2 separate regions of the Homo sapiens genome follow, and region 2 is linked to region 1. The links come from fine-mapping of genetic effects on gene expression. Tissue or cell type: CD4 T cells. Region 1 holds a variant in brackets; the other region holds the start of a gene. All regions are shown on one strand. Distances are from middle to middle.

What was found. PIP is the estimated chance that this variant, and not a neighbour inherited with it, causes the effect.
Region 2: ANXA6 starts here. The variant in region 1 is fine-mapped to the expression of ANXA6 in CD4 T cells (CEDAR, PIP 0.95). The same link has a PIP of 0.9 or more in NK cells.

What each region holds. Positions count from the first base shown.
Region 1 is chr5:151,099,808-151,102,565 of GRCh38, forward strand. ANXA6 (annexin A6) reads right to left here. Exons shown (of 26, transcript NM_001155.5): 26 at 899-1,700. The coding sequence ends at 1,641. Among named protein-coding and RNA genes, the nearest start is that of TNIP1, 20 kb to the left of the region's middle. The variant C/T (reference allele first, on the strand shown) is at 1,152.
Region 2 is chr5:151,156,234-151,158,862 of GRCh38, forward strand. It overlaps ANXA6 (annexin A6), which reads right to left and starts at 1,546. Exons shown (of 26, transcript NM_001155.5): 1 at 1,447-1,546. RefSeq lists an enhancer at 1,707-2,563 and a silencer at 2,359-2,418.

The sequences.
Region 1 (2,758 bases):
CCTGCCTGTTGCTGTCTTCACAGCTATGAAAACAAACACATGCGCCGCGCACGGTGGCTCACGCCTGTAATCCCAGCACTTTGGGAGGCCAAGGCGGGTGGATCACCTGAGATCAGGAGTTCGAGACCAGCCTGACCAACATGGAGAAACTCCATCTCTATTAAAAATACAAAATTAGCCAGGTGTGGTAGCACATGTCTGTAATCCCAGCTACTCGGGAAGCTGAGGCAGGAGAATCGCTTGAACCCGGGAGGCAGAGGTGGCAGTGAGCCAAATTCATGCCATTGCACTCCAGCCTGGGCAACAAGAGCGAAAGTCCATCTCAAAAAAAAAAAAAAAGAAGAAAAAGAAAAGAAAGAAAAGAAAACAAACACGCGCTAACCTGCAATAAACTAGTCTGGTCAGCCAGGGTAGGGAGAAGTGCCCTTTGGCCAGCAGCCAGCCCCATGCCATGGTCACTGGACAATCTTAGACCAAAGCCACAGACCAGAAGTAGGGCAGCGGGGGAGGGAAGGCAGAGGAACTGCAGTTGCGCCTACTTGCTTATCAGTGACCTGCATGAAGGAAACTTTCCATGCACCTCTCCAGATCAAGATCACATCGGGCACCCTTGCATAGTTCAAAAGAGGAAGTTTGGGCTTGGTTGAAATGGATGAAGAGCATACAGAAATGTCCAGACAGCGAGAGGGGATGAGGGGGAACCTGAGGCCCGGAGCAGGGCTGGGCCAGCCTTCCCAGGCTTGCTGCAAACTCAGATTCTCCTGTGCGCTTCCCGGGAAACACCTTGCAAGAATTTAAAGACGTAACTCGCTCCTGGACAGACTTTACAACCTCAAGCTCTAATGAGGAAAATCCAGGCTGCAGGCTCTAGGTAGAAGACAGAGGCCCTCACTGGAAATGTGTTTATGTGTTTGTGTATCTCTTTTTATTTCTTCCTTAGAAATAAAAAGTGTCAAGGGAATGAATCGGAGGCATACTTTAGGAAGTTAATGTTAGAAGGGAAGCCAAGATTTTTTTGTCCAACTGTCTCATTGTAGATAAGAAAATAGAGACTCAGGGAGGGAAAGGGGCTGGCCTAAGGTCAGAAACAAGTGCATGGCAGATGCAGATTTGAACCCAGGCATCCAAATTCCTGGTCCAGTACTCTAGCG[C/T]GGCCTGGATGGAGATGGGTGGTGAAATGGATGGGAAGATTTGTCAGTTTGCCCCAGCACATTTACTATCCTTCCCACCACCCCGCCCAGCACATTCAACTGGCCCCTGCCACCAACCCCCTCATTCAAAGTACAGACACTACTCATTTTACAGACAGAGGTTCAGGATGTTTTTGGATCTGACATAGCCCAAACCAGGGCAGAGGCTGTAGCAAGGGGAGGAAGCTGGGAAAGCCTGAGGGTCAGAGGGGAGTGGAGGTGGACAGGATCTATGGCTACGGTTTTTCAGCCGCTCAGCCGTGCTGGGCCCTCGATGGCCCGTGGGAGTGGGAGCGTTTCCTAAGCTCCACTGAAGATAAGAGCCCAACCCAACCCCTCCCCCCACCCCTGCCCCTTCCTTAGTCTCTGGAGCTGGAACAATCAGGCTTGGCCATGGCGGCTGGTGCTGATAACCATTTCTTGGCAGAAGTGCCCGCCAAAGCTGTGGCCCTAGTCCTCACCACCACAGAGAGCCAGCAAGGCCTTCAGGAAGTCTCCGGAGGTGTCACCCTGGCAGAGGCAGAGAGCAGAGTGAGTGAAAACAGTCCTTCCAGTCTCAATGCCCCCTCCTCCCGGCTGCCCATCTGTCTGGACATCTCCCTCGGCTTCTCTCCATGACCAACATAGGATCCCATGCCACATGTAGGCTACTGGGATCTCCCAGACACATAAATGTGACCACGTCCCTTTTGTTTATCCCCAGGAAGATATGCAAGCTCCCGGCCTGGCTTCAAGGCCCTTTGGGATCTGACCTGTGCAGAGCTCTGCAGCTTCACCTGTTCCTTTCCCCCAGGAGCATCTCAGTCCTCTCTCCACCTGTCACTCCCCTGTCCAACATGCCCCTGTGCACCCCCAATCCCATTTGCCAGCAGGGCCCTCTCCTCTGAGAAGCACTCTGGCCACTCTCTTGCGTCAGGAGGCACAGTGAACTCTGGCCTCCCTTGGTTCCCCTGGCACTCTGCTGATACCCTCCCCCATGGCCCTTGGCATATCGTGTTAGGTGATTTCTTATTTGAACAAACAACATTGAGTGCTAACTGCCAAGCCATTGCTGGGAATGGGTACAAACACCATCACGCTCACCACACATCACAGTGGTCTGGTATACGTTCAGACTGGGGAGGCCAAACTTCCTGACCCATGGTATGGTATGGATCTCCCTTCTGAGGGACTCCTATCATTGTTATGAGACATGGTTTTCGGGATTTTGTTTGTCCTTGTATTTTTTGATGTATGATTTTAAAACATAATATAGTATCAAAATGTGCCAACAATTTACTTACATTCCTACTAAGTCTGTAAGAGACTGCCTCTGAGATGCCCATAGTCTCGTTAGCCAAGTAGAACCAAGCATCAGACTTTAAGATCTTGGCTGATCTCAAAGAGCAAAAATATAAGCTCCATATGTCAAAAAAGTCAGACGCAGCCAGGTGTGGTGGCTCACACCTGTAATCCCAGCACTTTGGGAGGCCAAGGCAGGTGGATCACTTGAGGTCAGGAGCTAGCAACCAGCCTGGCCAACACAGTGAAACCCTGTCTGTACTAAAAATACAAAAATTAGCCAGGCA
Region 2 (2,629 bases), 56 kb after region 1:
CTTAGAACAGTTGAATCCTAGAATGTCTGCACTGGCAGTGGCAGCCAGTTCAGCAGACTTTGCTCCAGATGGGGCACAAAGCCTTAGAGAAAGGGCTTGCTCAAGAAGTCCCAGCACATCCGGACTGTAACCGGGCTTTCCTCTGACCCCAGGCCAGTGCCCTCGGCGTGGCTCAGGGCCTGCCTGCTAGGAGGTCAGGGTCCACAGGGGCTGAAACTGGGGCGGTCATTCACTTCACCATGAAGGGCTACGCAGGTCAGGATATGCCATCTGGGTCAGTGGAAGCAATCCCAAGCATGTTTTGGGCAAGGGGGAAGGAATAATGGAGGGAAAAGGGCGGACTCTTGGGGGGAAACCAGAGTCCTTTCACAAACCCGGGAGCCATATGTCCAAATTTGGAATTGTCAGAGAAGACCCACTAGAATCTAGGGAAAGGAAGGAGGAGGCAGGAAGCCGTGGCCAGATTAGTTGTCCCAAAGGACCTCCTGCCCTTTCCCCTTGTAGGGCCTACAAGGGTTGTGCCAGGCTTCCCAAATCTATAATCAAGACTCCCAAACCTGCAATCATTCCATACAGCTGACAAATAAATCAGTTTTCAAAGCCATTGTTTCCTTTGAAAGAGACTGGGTTTCTCAACTATGGACTTGGAGAAGGAAATCCAGGCTCAGAGAGGGAAAGCCACCGCCCAAAGTCACACTGCAACAGGGGCTGGGATTCCGATTCAGGGTATTTTGCTCCCATGCTGGTATATGGGGAATTATTTGAAGCCCCCAAACTTTGGGAAGGCCTAGACCGCTTAGGGGATGCAGAAAGAAGGGTAGTGCCCCTGCCTCACCATAGGAGGCCTCGGAGCCCCGTTGGGAGACTGCATTCATAGACAAGCAGTGGCCCAAAGGGGATGGGGTCCAATGAGGCCCTGAGGTATGTACGACCGGACGTTCAGCTCTCTGCACGCAGGCAGCCCTCCCCCGACACCACACACAAGCCATTTTATAAGCAGCTGGAGGGTCCAACGCTCTTGCTCTCAGTCTTGGGCCTCAGCCACACCCTTCTCTGCGGGTCCTTTGACTGGCGTCCAGCTGACCCCAACCCCGGACCTTCAAAGTCTCTTGAGCCCCCCCAAATTAAGGCCGGCAGGACCAGCCCCTGGCTCAGCTCCGGCGCCCAGGACCCTCAACCAGACCCTCTGCAGCAACGGGACTCCCTCCCCTCCCCCTAGCCAGGGCGCCCTCCGCCCGCGCCTCTCCGCCCCGACCCCAGATTTGCTCCGCTGCGCTCCCCAGACACACCCAGTCTGCGACACTCTCGGGTTACCGCGCCCTCCCGTCCCTGCTCCTGGCGGGGGGTACCCATCAGCCGATGACTGGGCGCTTATTTCTTGTGTCCCTGCAGCCCCCGGGAAGGGGTTCCCAGAGCGACTCCCCTCTCCAGCCTCAGCCCACTCACCGCGCAGCGGAGGCCTCGGGTCGCAGACGGACGCACGGGCGCAGGGACTCGAGGACGCAGCGCTCGCTGGATCGGAGCCCGTTAGCCCAGCAGCAACCGCAGCGCGGGGCGGACCGGGAGGACAGCCGTGGGCTCCGAGCCGGACACGTGGCGCGCAGAGGCCAATCCGGCGCGCCCGCCTCCCTCCTCCACCCCACCCCTCTAGCTCCTTAGCTCTTGGAATCTTAGAATGTCACTAGCCCGAGGGGCTTGCCGGGAGAACCTCCTCAGTTTCCAGCCCCCGGATCTGAGACTGAGAAGGATTAGGGGCTTTGGCCAAGGTCACGCGGCCCTTCAGGGCTAGAAGTCAGGGCTCCTGACTCCGGGTTCTGGACACTTTCCCGCAAATTCTTATAAGTCGCCAAAGCTTTGTTGAGAAACAGAAAATTGAGGTTTGCCAGGGGCACTTTATCTGCCTGATCAGATTCCATGCCTCAACAGCCTCATTAGGTCGGTGACATTATTTACCCACTTTCAGGAGGAGAGCCCAGTCCAGTTCCTGGACCAAGGTCACACAAATAGTGGGTTGCGGAGGCAAGCTTCTTCGTGCTCTGGGAAGCAGGGAAGGCAGGCAGGGAGACCAGCAGTTGTAATCCAGCGCTAGAACAGGAAAAATTGATAAACTGAGAATACAGAGGAAACTGAGAATTATTGTCCCCAGGGGATTGGTAAGGAGAAGATGAGGAAGTTAGAAGAATTGGACAGATACCTGCGGAAAGTGTTCCAGGCAGAGGAAACTGCTGGAGCAAATGCTCCTAGCAGGAGGCCACCTGGCGCCTCCGAGGATCAGCAGGGGGGCCAGTGTGGCTGGAATGGAGTGAGTGGGAGGGAGAGGAGAGATAAGAGGGACCCAATCAGGTGGGACCTCCGGGGCCCTTGAAGGCACGCTGTCTTTTACTCTGAGTCAACTGGGGATCCATTGCAGGATATTGAGCAAAGAAAGGGTATTATTTTTGGGTAGATGAAATCCACACAACATAAAATTAACCATTTTAAAGTCAACAATTCAGTGGCATTTTGTACAGACACAATGTTGTGTATCCACCACCTCTATCTAGTTCCAAAATATTCTCTTCACGGAAAAATAAAACAGTATACCCACTGAGCAGTCACTCCTAACTTTCCCTTACCCCTCGTCTCTGGC